Linked DNA regions of Homo sapiens: region 2 is linked to region 1. A link means that fine-mapping ties the variant in region 1 to the expression of a gene that starts in the linked region. Tissue or cell type: whole blood. Region 1 holds a variant in brackets; the other region holds the start of a gene. All regions are shown on one strand. Distances are from middle to middle.

Region 1 (4,000 bases):
TGTATCCTTTATAATAAACCAGTAAACATTTCTCTGAGTTCTGTGAGTGGTTCCAGCAAATTAATTGAACCCAAAGAGGGCTTCATGGGAACCCCAACATGAAGCCTATCAACTGGTGTGCGTCGGGGGGCAGTCTTGTGACTGAGCACTTAAATGGATCTGACACTATCTGACATAATTTCCAGGTAGATAGTGTTAGAATTGATTTGGAGGACACCTAGCTGATACCTACTGCAGAATTAATTGGTCGCTTGGTGGTGGGGAGAAATCTCCACACATTTGGTCACTAGAAGTCTTCTGTGGTGATGATTGTTGTTGTAGTGGTGTGAGAGCAGAGGAAAAACATGGTTTTAGAGTTTTTCCAAAAGAGAGTGAGAGAGCAAGAGAGAATACATCATGTGATTCCATTTATATTAAAAGTCTAGAAAATACAAACCAATCCTTAATGACAGAAAGCAGCTTAGTGCTTTTCTAGGGATAGGATTAGGGGCAGAGAGAGGAGAGAAGGACTTTAAAGCGGCATAAGAAAAACTTTCAGGGGTGACACATGATCATTATCTTGATTTTTATTAGTTTTATATAAATAGTATACAATCAAACCTGAATAAAGGTGGGAAAAATGTGAAAAAAAATAATCCAAGTAGCTTTTCTTTTCTTTTCTTTTTTTTGGGACAGAGTCTCATGCTCTGTCACCCAGGCTGGAGTGCAGTGGCTCAGTCTTGGCTTACTACAGCCTCTGTCTCCCAGGTTCAAGCAATTCTCCTGCCTCAGCCTCCTGAGTAGCTGAGATTGCTGAGATTGTAGGTGTACCCCACCACACCCAGCTAATTTTTGTATTTTTTACCAAAAAAAAAAAAAAAAGGGCAAAAACCGCGATTACTTTTGCAACAACCAGATAGTAGAAATGGGATTTCACAATGTTGACCGGGCTAGTCTCAAACTCCTGGCCTGAAGTGATCCACCCGCCTCAGCCTCCTAAAGTGATGGGATTACAGGCATGAGCTACTGTGCCTGGCCCCAAGTAACTTTTTTATTTTTTATTTTTTTTGAGACGGAGCCTCACCGTCACCCAGGCTGGAGTGCAGTGGCGTGATCTCGGATCACTGCAACCTCCACCTCCTGGGTTCCAGTGATTATCCTGCCTCAGCCTCCCAAGTAGCTGGGACTGACTATGGGCACCTGCTACCATGCCTGGCTAATTTTTGTATTTTTAGTATATTTTTAGTAGAGACGGGGTTTCACCATGCTGGCCAGGCTGGTCTTGAACTCCTGACCTTGTGATCCGCCTGCTTCGGCCTCCCAAAGTGCTGAGATTACAGGCGTGAGCCACCGCACCTGGCCCCAAGTAACTTTTAATATAGTACTCTTGTCTATATAGCTTCAGTGGGACATATTATATGGAAAAAAGTACTGTAAAAAAGAAAAATCTTAGAGCTGGCCACAATGGCTTACACCTATGATCTTAGCACTTTGGGAGTCCAAGGCAGGAGAATCCCTTGAGCCCAGGAGTTCAAGACTGGCCTGAACAAAATAATGAGACTCCATCACTACAAAAAATTTAAAAATTATCCAGGCATGGTGTACAGCTGTAGTCCAAGCTACTCAGGAGGCTGAGGCAGGAAGACTCATTGAGTCTGGGAGGTCAAGACTGCAGTGAGCTGTGATCATGCCACTGCACTCCAGCCTTGGTGACAGAGTGAGACTCTGTCTCAAAAAAATAAAGTAAAACCTTGATCTTTACTTAGATTTATTGTTTGTAATGAAACTATTTGAAACTATTTTGAGGCTGGGTGCGGTGGCTCACGCCTGTAATCTCAGTACTTTGGGAGGCCAAGGCGCATAGATCACGTGAGGTCAGGAGTCAGAGACAAGCCTGACCAATATCGTGAAACCCTGTCTCTACTAAAAATACAAAAATTAGCCGAGTGTGGTGGCATGCACCTGTAATCCCAGCAATTCGGGTGGCTGGGACAGGAGAATCGCTTGAACCCAGGAGGCGGAGGTTGCAGTGAGCCAAGATCACGCCACTGTACTCCAGCCTCAGTGACAGTGAGACTCCATCTCAAAAAAACAAAAACAAAAACAAAACCCACCTATTTTGAGTATATTGTAGGACTGGGCAAATAAGTAAATGTATTGATGCTGTTGGAAACAAGGTTCTCACTGTGGGGCAGAGGAGATACAGATATGGAATAGAAGAACTGAAATTAAGAGTACTGTTATGAACACGATTTTTAAAATAAATGTATTTCCTAACTAATCACCATGCCTGGCTAATTTTTTTTTTATCTTTAGTAGAAAGGAGGTTTCACCATTTTGGCCAGGCTGGT[C/T]TTGAACTCCTGACCTTGTGATCCACCCGCCTCAGCCTCCCAAAGTGCTGAGATTACAGGCATGAACCACTGCGCCCGGCTTTTTTTTTTTTTTTGAGAGGGAGTCTCGCTATGTCCCCCAGGCTGGAGTGCAATAGCGTGATCTTGGCTCACTGCAACCTCTGCCTCAGGGGTTCAAGGAATTCTCCTGCCTCAGCCTTCTGAGTAGCTGGGGTTACACGCACGTGCCACCACGCCCTGCTAATTTTTGTATTTTTAGTAGAGATGGGGTTTCACCATGTTGGTTAGGCTGGTCTCGAACTTGTGACCTCGTGATCCGCCCACCTCAGCCTCCCAAAGTGCTGGGATTACAGACGTGAGCCACCGCGCCCGGGCTAATTTTTTATATTTTTTAGTAGAGACGGGGTTTCACCATGTTGGCCAGGCTGATCTTGAACTCCCGACATCAGATAATCTGCCCTCCTCGGCCTCCCAAAGTGCTAGGATTACAGGCATTTGCCACCACACCCAGCCAGAGATTCATTCTTGTATGTTTGAATAGCTCATTCCCTTTCATTACTCAGTAGTATTCCACTTTATGGATATGTATCCCAATTTGTTTATCCATTTCATGTGTTTTTTTGTTTTTTTGTTGTTTTTTTTTTCGAGAAAGAGTCTTGCCCTGTCGCCAGGCTGGAGTGCAGTGGTGCGATCTCGGCTTACTGCAACCTCTGCCTCAGCCCCCTGAGTTGCCAGGATTGTAGGCGCCTGCCACCATGCCCAGCTAAGTTTTTGTATTTTTAATAGAGACGCGGTTTCACCATGTTGGCCAGGCTGGTCTTGAACTCCTGACCTCAAGTGATCCGCCTGCCTTTGCATCCCAAAATGCTGGGATTAAAGACGTGAGCCACCACACCCAGCTTTGTTTTCTTTCTTATTTTTTTGGCCCAGGGCATTGTTTTTTTATTTTTGTTTTCAATTACAAATAAGACCACTATGAACATTCATGTACAAGTCTTTGTGGGGCATGTGCTTTCATTTTGCTTAGATAATGAATTCCGTCAGACTACTGACTATCCACATCATGGGGAAAAAATGGAATAGGATAAAACTGAGAATAGAACTTAGTGGCACTTTGGTAAAGATCTCCCTTTAGATGAACCATTATCATTCAGTGAATAAGGTTATTCATCTGTCTGTGAATCTACGTGACTACTCTCCAGCCCACAGATCACCATATGATCTATAGGACTATCAGAATAGACTTTGTCAAATGTGTTAGTGGAAATTAATTTCTTGTTAGTTAGGTACCTGGTAGTTAAGAGTCGGCTTGGAGTCGAAGTTGCTTAAAAAGCTGTGTAGCCCCATGAGTATCACTGCCTAAAACAATGGCAAGTCTCAAACAGACCAGGGGGCATTAGGAAAGCAATAACAGTGTGCGAGAGCAGCAGGGGAAAGAGATACATTCATCCAGTCATTCAATAATAATTATTGAGCACCTGCTGTTTGCCAGGCATTGTCGTGGGCATTGGGAATGGGGAACAAAAATGCCTCTCCTCATGGGATTTTCATTTTAGTAGGTAGAGATAAATGGTAAACAAGTATATAAACAATATGTCAGAAGGTATAAGTGTTATGAAGAAAGGGAGAGTAGGTAAAGTCTGGGGTGGTGCTTCCTTTTTAGAGACAGA
Region 2 (7,621 bases), 370 kb after region 1:
AGGCTCGCCCTTGAGCCCTGAAACCATACCATCCCTGGCCTGAGGGGGTGGGGCCAGCCATGCTGCTCCTTTCACACCTGGCACCGAGGGTTGGGACCCAGCCATCTGGGTTATGACAGGCAGTCTGGGCACTGATCCCATCTACCCTAGAACCCAGCTCAGGGCTTTGCATGTGGGATCACAAGTGGGGGCCTGGCCACCCACCAGGCCCTGCCTTGTCCCCCAGAAGACTCAGGTCTCACTCCTTAGGGCTTCCAAAAGCCTATGGTTATTATTCAGTCAAAATACTTTACTTCCAATTGGCTGAGCACCGATTACTCTGTGTCAGGTACTAGCCACATACTCACATGGATTATCTCATTCCATTCTCATTAGAGCGAGCCCAAAACATGAGTGTGGTTATCTCCCATTGCAGATGAGGAAACAGAGGCTCAGAGACACTGAGACAATGCCCAGGTAACAGTGAGGAGCAGCTGGGCGGTGAGGACCACATCTGGATCAAGACTGCTCAGAGGCCCTTGCAGTGTGCTTGACCAAACGCTGTCAAGTTCAGGGCCCAGCCTGGCTGGGTCCTCCAGATCCCACCGCCCCCACCCCTGGAGTGGGGAGGGGCTACATGTTATAGGAACCTGGCCCTGTCCCTAATGAGACCTCCCCAAACCCTGCCCAGAAGCCTGCCCCTTAAGTACCTGGCAGGTCAATGGCCACAGCCCGGTAGCCAGCCTGGGCCAGCCTGTGCAGTGTACCCAGGTTCTGCCAGGTCTCGGAGGAGAAGCGAATACCATGCAGCAGCAGTACAGAGAAGCGAGCCTGCCCACTGCCGGGCAGGGCCTCTCGGAAGAAGAGGGCCTGGCCCTGCACCTGGATGGTGCCCTCGCGCTGCTCCACGCTTGCTGCCATGCCTGCTGCTGCTGTGCTGGTGAAGGGCCTGTGGTTCAAAACCACGATGATGAGGGGCCACAGAACACCCTGCCCAGGGTGGCAGTCCCAGAGGAGCAGCAAGGAAGCCTCCAGGAGGTTTCCAGAACTTTAAGAACATGCCTTGGGGTCAGGAGGACATAGGTGTTATTTCTGCCTCTGCCATTTACTTTAGTGTGTAACCTGGGGCCTCAGCTTCTTGATCTGAAATATGGGAACAATAAAGCCAACTTCAAGAATTAGCAATTTAATTAAAAGTTTAAGAAAAATTATCGGCCAGGCATGGTGGCTCACGCCTGTAATCCCAGCACTTTGGGAGGCCGAGGCGGGTGGATCACCTGAGGTCAGGAGTTCAAGACCACCCTGGCCAACATGGTGGAACCCCGTCTCTACTAAAAAGAAAAAAAAATTAGCCAGGTGTGGTGGCACGTGCCTGTAGTCCCAGCTACTCAGCAGGAGAATCGCTTGAACCCGGGAGGCAGAGGTTGCAGTGAGCCGAGATCGTGCCACTGTGCTCCAGCCTGGGTGACAGAGTGAGACTCGGTCACAAAAAAAAAAAAAAAAAAGAGCCAGCTGATGGTCACATGTAACTCTCATTAGGCCAGGCGCGGTGGCACACGCCTGTAATCCCAGCATTTTGGGAGGCCGAGGCGGGCGGATCACCTGAGGTCAGGAGTTCGAGATCTCCCTGATGAACATGCAGAAAGAAACCCCATCTCTACTCAAAATACAAAATTAGCCAGCTGTGGTGGCACACGCCTGTAATCCCAACTACTTGGGAAGCTAAGGCAGTAGAATTGCTTGCACCCAGGAGGCAGAGGTTGCAGTGAGCCGAGAACGCGCCATTGCACTCCAGACTGGGCAACAAGAGAAAAACTCCATCTCAAAAAAACAAAAAACAGAAAAATTATCAGTGGGGGTGCCTGCTGTAAAACCTCAATATGTGGTGGGGCTCCATTACAATTACTGTTCTTATTCTCATCGTTATTATCCTTTTCTATAAATGGGGATAATTCAATAGTACTAGCTCATAGGTGGTTGATAGGATTAAATAAGGCCATGCATGTACCATGCCTAGCACGTAGTAAGGGCTCAGTGCTCAATCAACGGTAAGTTACAGGTCATGAGTTGTCAATGCAGGCCAGAGGGAGCCCAAATTGGGGTAAAAAGCCCATTTTATTTTATTTTATTCTATTTATTTATTTTGGGACAGAGTTTCACTCTTGTTGCCCAGAATGGAGTGCAGTGGCATGATCTCGGCTCACTGCAACCTCCACCTCCTGGGTTCAAGCGATTCTCCTGCCTCAGCCTCCCGAGTAGCTGGGTTTACAGGCGTGCGTCACCATGCCTGGCTAATTTTTTTTTTTTTTTTTTTGAGACGGAGTCTCGCTCTGTCGCCCAGGCTGGAGTGCAATGGCACATCTCCGCTCACTGCAAGCTCCGCCTCCCGGGTTCACGCCATTCTCCTGCCTCAGCCTCCCGGGTAGCTGGGACTACAGGCACGCGCCACCACGCCCGGCTAATTTTTTGTTTTTTTTTTTTTAGTACAGACGGGGTTTCGCCGTGTTAGCCAGGGTGGTCTCGATCTCCTGACCTCGTGATCCGCCCGCCTCAGCCTCCCAAAGTGCTGGGATTACAGGCGTGAGCCACCGTGCACGGCCTAATTTTTATATTTTTAGTAGAAACGGGGTTTCATCATGTTGGCCGAGCTGGTCCGGAACTCCTGACCTCAAGTGATCCACCCACCTTGGCCTCCCAAAGTGCTGGGATTACAGGCGTGAGCCACCGCGCCGGAACTAAAAGCCCATTTTCTTCGGTTTTTTTTTTTTTCTTTTTTTTTTTTTTAAGAGAAGATGTCTCGCTCTGTCGTCCAGGCTGGAGTGCAGTGGCGCAATCATGGATCACTGCAGCCTTGACCTTCCTGGGCTCAAGTGATCCTCCCGGCTCACCCCCAGTAGCTGGAACCACAGGCGCGCTTCCACACCGGAAAGCCCATTTTCTAGAGGCGGAAACCGAAGCGCCCAGTGGGAAAGGCGACCCGCCGGGGATGCGGGGTGCTCAACGCGCTGCCACCTGGGGCCCAACGCGTTGACCTCGCGGTCAGGTTGCTTCCGCGGACTACGGTTCTGGCTCGCTAGCTCTGGAAGGGAGCACCGGGAGGGAATGGTGGCAACTCCCAAGGAGGGGACCCAGGGATCCGAGAAAGGAAGACTTGGGGTAGGTGGGGTTGGATTTTGACTGGAGAGAAGAAAGGGTCAGGAGTGCAGGGCGGGTACCTGGGGAGCTGCGTGGACTCGCGCAGACGGGAAGCAGGCGCGTGCTGGCGGTGACCTGGGGCCGGAGGAGGAACGCTGGGAAGAGGCCGGGCCCCATCCAGCGGGGGCGGGGACTGGGCCGTGCTCCGGGGCGCCCTCTTGTGGCCACAAGCTCGCAGCGTCCATAGACTCCGCTAAACTCGTTCTCACAGCGGCGTCAGTTTCCCAAAGCCTCTCGGTCTCACATGCCCCAAACGCGGTGCTGAGCACGGTTTCGAACTCTTCAGCGACCTGCCCCACATGGACATGGAGCAGTCTGAGGAGGAAAGTTCCTTCGGGATCGCATCCTTGCTGCTGTCTTCCTGCTCCCCATCCCCCTTATCCCCAGCTTGAACTGCCCAGGGCAACTTGTTGGCCTGGCACGGAGTTGAGGCCCGACAGGTTTGAGTGCGAGGCTCCGCCAGTGTCCAGCCAAGTGGCCTTGATCGTTTTCCCAATGCCCCCGAGCCTGTTTCCTGCCAGTAGAGCGGGTCAGATGTTGCCAACCTCTGCAGAGTAGCAATAAGCAGTAAACGCCACGCTCTGCACAGCCTCCCAGTGCTGGGCCTGGTCGCCACGCGGAGCCTTGGGCTGGGACAGGCCAGACGTTGGTAACACATCGCCAACCAGGGCAGGCGCCATGAGTAGACGTGAACGAGCCCAGGGCCAGCCCAGGCTCTGACCGTGGGTGTGCGTCGGGGAGGGGGTGGGGAGGAGTGGGTAGGAGTCAGGAAAGTGGGTCGGCCAAGACCTGGAGCTGCTGCATAACAATATCTGGCATTTACACAACGAGGCCTCTGCTCCGGACACTGTTCTGAGGCTTGACCCGTCCTTAAGAACCTAGGACAACCCTGTGCGGTGGGTTTTATCCTTAACTCCATTATACAGGCCAGAGAACTGAGCCAGGGTGGAGATGTTCCACTGAGAAGAAGCCACATGGCTCTCCGCCGGCTCTCAAGCCAAAAACAGTTCCGAAAATCTGGGCGGGGAGCGGGCCAGAGAGCGCTGGGGCTCTGCCCCCAGCACCCCCTCCACGCAGACGACTCGGTAACTGGGTTGCAGGCCCGCGGCTGCGGAGTGCGCAGGCGCGCCGAGATGGCCGCGCTCCTGGCCGCCTAGAGCCGGAGCGGCCCGCGGAGCTGCGGAGGCAGCCATGGTCGGGGCGCTGTGCGGCTGCTGGTTCCGCCTGGGCGGGGCCCGCCCGCTCATCCCGTTGGGCCCGGTGAGTCTCCCGGGGGAGGGAGGCCGGCCGGTGGCCCAGGGGAGGGCCGTCTTTACCCCGCCCCTTGCCCCGGCGCCCCGGGGCAGAGTCCCGCGGAAGAAGCAGACGCTGGGGCCGCGAATGTGCATGTGCGCGCGTGTAATGTGTGTGCGCGCGCAGGGTCTGCATATGTTCTTGGGGGTCTGGGTGTATGTGTACGCTTGTGTGTCTGCATGGTGTCCGTCAGTGGGTTTCTGCGCGCTTATATTTTTGGGGGGGGGGTGTGTTCGTTGATGTCTGCCTGCTTGTGTCAGCGTTATGTCTTCCGAGTGTATTTCTGTGTGCGTGTGATTTTAAGGGTATGTGTCTACCTGTCTGCGTGTGTGCATTTCTGGGGGTTTGTGTGTGTGTGCGTGTCTGCTTTCCTGTGCATGTGCCTTTCTTGTGTGAATGTGTAGTCTTACGGTTGTGTGTATGACCGTGCTTGAGTATTTCTGAGGATCAGCCTGTGGTTTTCAAAGTGTGCATCTCCATCAGTCTCTCTGGCTTCCTGATGCCTGACTGTGTGCGTGATGTAGAGGGTACCATTACAAGGGATTAATTGCACACGGGCCAGTGTGTGTGCAAAGAGGCTGCATGTACATGCAGGGAATAGCTTGTGCAAAAGAAAAGCGTGTGGGGGCAAGACTCGTATTTGTGCGTGTGTGCACCTGTGTGTCATTGTCAACGCATATTCCAATGACCTAACCCGGGCACAGTTTACCCTGCCCCCCGCAAACCCCCGCAGGCGGCCAGCTGCAGGTCCACTACAATTTCCTAGTACTGCGGGCACCCTCGGTTGCCAAGGCAACAGCCTAAGCCCCGCCCTTCCCGCTTTGGAGAAGCGCGGGGGCGCCCCGAGTGGGCAGCAAGGAAATGTCCCTCGCGCCCGGTGGGAATCTGGACTAACGCCCAGTTAGAGACGCGCGTCTGAGGTTGTTAGTGGTCTGGAAGAAAAGAGGAACGCGCTCTTCCTCCACTAGGTCCTGGTTTTCCAGAAACAGCAGAAAGGCGGCTGCTGCTGTGGCTCACAAGCCCCCCGACCCCGAAGCCTGGGGATGCGGGCTCAGGAAACATCCCCAAAACATCCCGGAGGGATGAATAGGAACCAAGACGGGCCCCCGGCTCCTAGTTCGGGCAGGCGCCCAGTTGGCACTCAATAAAGATGTGCTGGCCCGGCGCGGTGGCTCACGCCTGTAATCCCAGCACTCTGGGAGGCCGAGGCGGGTGAAACACGAGGCCAGCAGTTCGAGAACAGCCTGGCCAACATGGTGAAACCCTGTCTCTACTAAAAAATACAAAAATTAGCCGGGCGCGGTGGCGGGAGCCTGTAATCCCACTATTCGGGAGGCTGAGGCAGGAGAATTGCTTGAACCCGGGAGGCGGAGGTTGCAGTGAGCCGAGATTGTACCACTGCACTCTAGCCTGGGCGACAGAGCAAGACTCCGTCTCAGAAAAATAAAAATAAAATAAAGATGTGTTTGCTGGACTCCTGGAAGGAAGCAGGCGTGCTCATCCTAGGCCCAAGAAATGACAGGGACAGCCCTGATCCAGTCCACGGTATTATCTAAATCTCACAGGAAGCTTAGGAGGGCAGCCACGAGGTTATCCCATTTTACTGACAAACTGAAGACACAAGGTCAGGAAGTGGCAGTCTCAAAGGCCTGTCCTGTTTGAGTCCTGGGTCCTAAGGGCTGTCCTCTGGGGTGGCAGAGACCCCAGATTGGAGGAGTCCACGAAGCAGTCATTTGGCCAGAAGCTGTCTGTGTGTAGGATGGGGAGTAGCAGGCGGCATTCATCTCTCCAACCTCTACACTGTGCTTTTCATTTCTGGGTGTACCATGCTCCTCCCTGGCCCTGCAGCCCCTCACTCCTCAGCATTTTCCTCTATTACAAGACATTCTCTGTGAGCCTCTTCATAACAGCTGGGTTAGACCTTAGTTATAATGCGATTGTAAAACGCGTTCTGATTTTAGCAGTATTAAATGCAGTGAGATTAAAAGAACCATTTCCAAACATGCCCTTAAGTGGGAGGTCCCTTTGCGCGCAGTCTTTCTCCTTTGATAGCCCTCATCACTTTTTCCACCTGCAAGGCTCCAGTTCATCCATCATCTCCCAGCTCCACGGGTTCCTCCTTGGCAAACCGAGTGTGGCCTGGTAGTTAGAAGCCCATTCCTAGGTTCAAACCCCAATTCCCCCACTTGCTACTTGGCACTTTGGGCAAGAGAATGTACCTCTCTGAGCCTCCATTTCCTCACCTATAAGAGACCTATAATCACGTCTGCTCCCCAGCATTCTTGGTGGAAAAGAACCTTGTATGTGAAGTGCCACACTCAGGGCCTGCTGTCATAAGCGCTTGATGAACGGAAGTGGTTTCAGCTGATGCCATGATGGTGGCGGTCACTGAGCATGCTGTGTGCCAGAGAACACCTCAGATGCACCTCCTCACACTGTGAGGTATCTGAGCGCTTGCCCTGGCATGTGGAGTAGTTGAGTGTGAACTCCCAGAACTTTGCCCAGAGCAAGGGAAAGGGCAAGGGCTGGAGCTCTTCCTCTGCTGGGGACTCTGGGTGGGGTTTTGGGATGGGATCCAGGGTCCTTGTAGGGACTCAGTTCCAGCCTCTTTTCCCTCTCCTCTCCCTCTCCAGACTGTGGTACAGACCTCCATGAGCCGGTCCCAGGTAGCCCTGCTGGGCCTGAGTCTGCTGCTCATGCTCCTACTGTATGTGGGGCTGCCAGGCCCCCCTGAGCAGACTTCCTGCCTCTGGGGAGACCCCAATGTCACAGTCCTGGCTGGTCTCACCCCTGGCAACTCGCCCATCTTTTACCGCGAGGTGCTCCCACTCAACCAGGCACACAGGTAGGTGCTGCTCCAAGGGTCTAGTGGAGGGACTAGGCTCAAGGGGAGTCCCTGTGTGGGACCCCCATTATACTCAGGGTGCTCAGGTCCTGGGAGGGCAATGGGAGAAGCCTAGGAATAAAGAAAGGTGGGCTACACCAGGTTCCCAGCAAACACATTCCCCTGTGTGCCTGCAGGGTGGAGGTGGTGCTGCTTCATGGAAAGGCCTTTAACTCTCACACGTGGGAGCAGCTGGGCACACTGCAGCTACTGTCACAGAGGGGCTACCGGGCCGTGGCCCTTGACCTTCCAGGTGAGCACCCCCACCCC

What was found. PIP is the estimated chance that this variant, and not a neighbour inherited with it, causes the effect.
Region 2: it holds the start of ABHD14B, and the variant in region 1 is fine-mapped to the expression of ABHD14B in whole blood (INTERVAL, PIP above 0.99).

Annotation. Positions count from the first base shown.
Region 1 is chr3:51,598,901-51,602,900 of GRCh38, forward strand. All of the region lies in intron 3 of RAD54L2 (RAD54 like 2), which reads left to right. Among named protein-coding and RNA genes, the nearest start is that of RAD54L2, 62 kb to the left of the region's middle. The variant C/T (reference allele first, on the strand shown) is at 2,331.
Region 2 is chr3:51,970,771-51,978,391 of GRCh38, forward strand. ABHD14B (abhydrolase domain containing 14B) reads right to left here and starts at 3,279. Exons shown (of 4, transcript NM_001146314.2): 1 at 3,195-3,279; 2 at 690-928. The coding sequence starts at 900. ABHD14A-ACY1 (ABHD14A-ACY1 readthrough) reads left to right here and starts at 4,294. Exons shown (of 17, transcript NM_001316331.2): 1 at 4,294-4,434; 2 at 7,101-7,312; 3 at 7,489-7,604. The coding sequence starts at 7,177. It overlaps ABHD14A (abhydrolase domain containing 14A), which reads left to right and starts at 4,294. Exons shown (of 5, transcript NM_015407.5): 1 at 4,294-4,434; 2 at 7,101-7,312; 3 at 7,489-7,604. The coding sequence starts at 4,366. RefSeq lists enhancers at 2,468-3,404, 3,438-3,617 and silencers at 2,848-2,997, 3,218-3,387, 4,218-4,597, 5,203-5,497.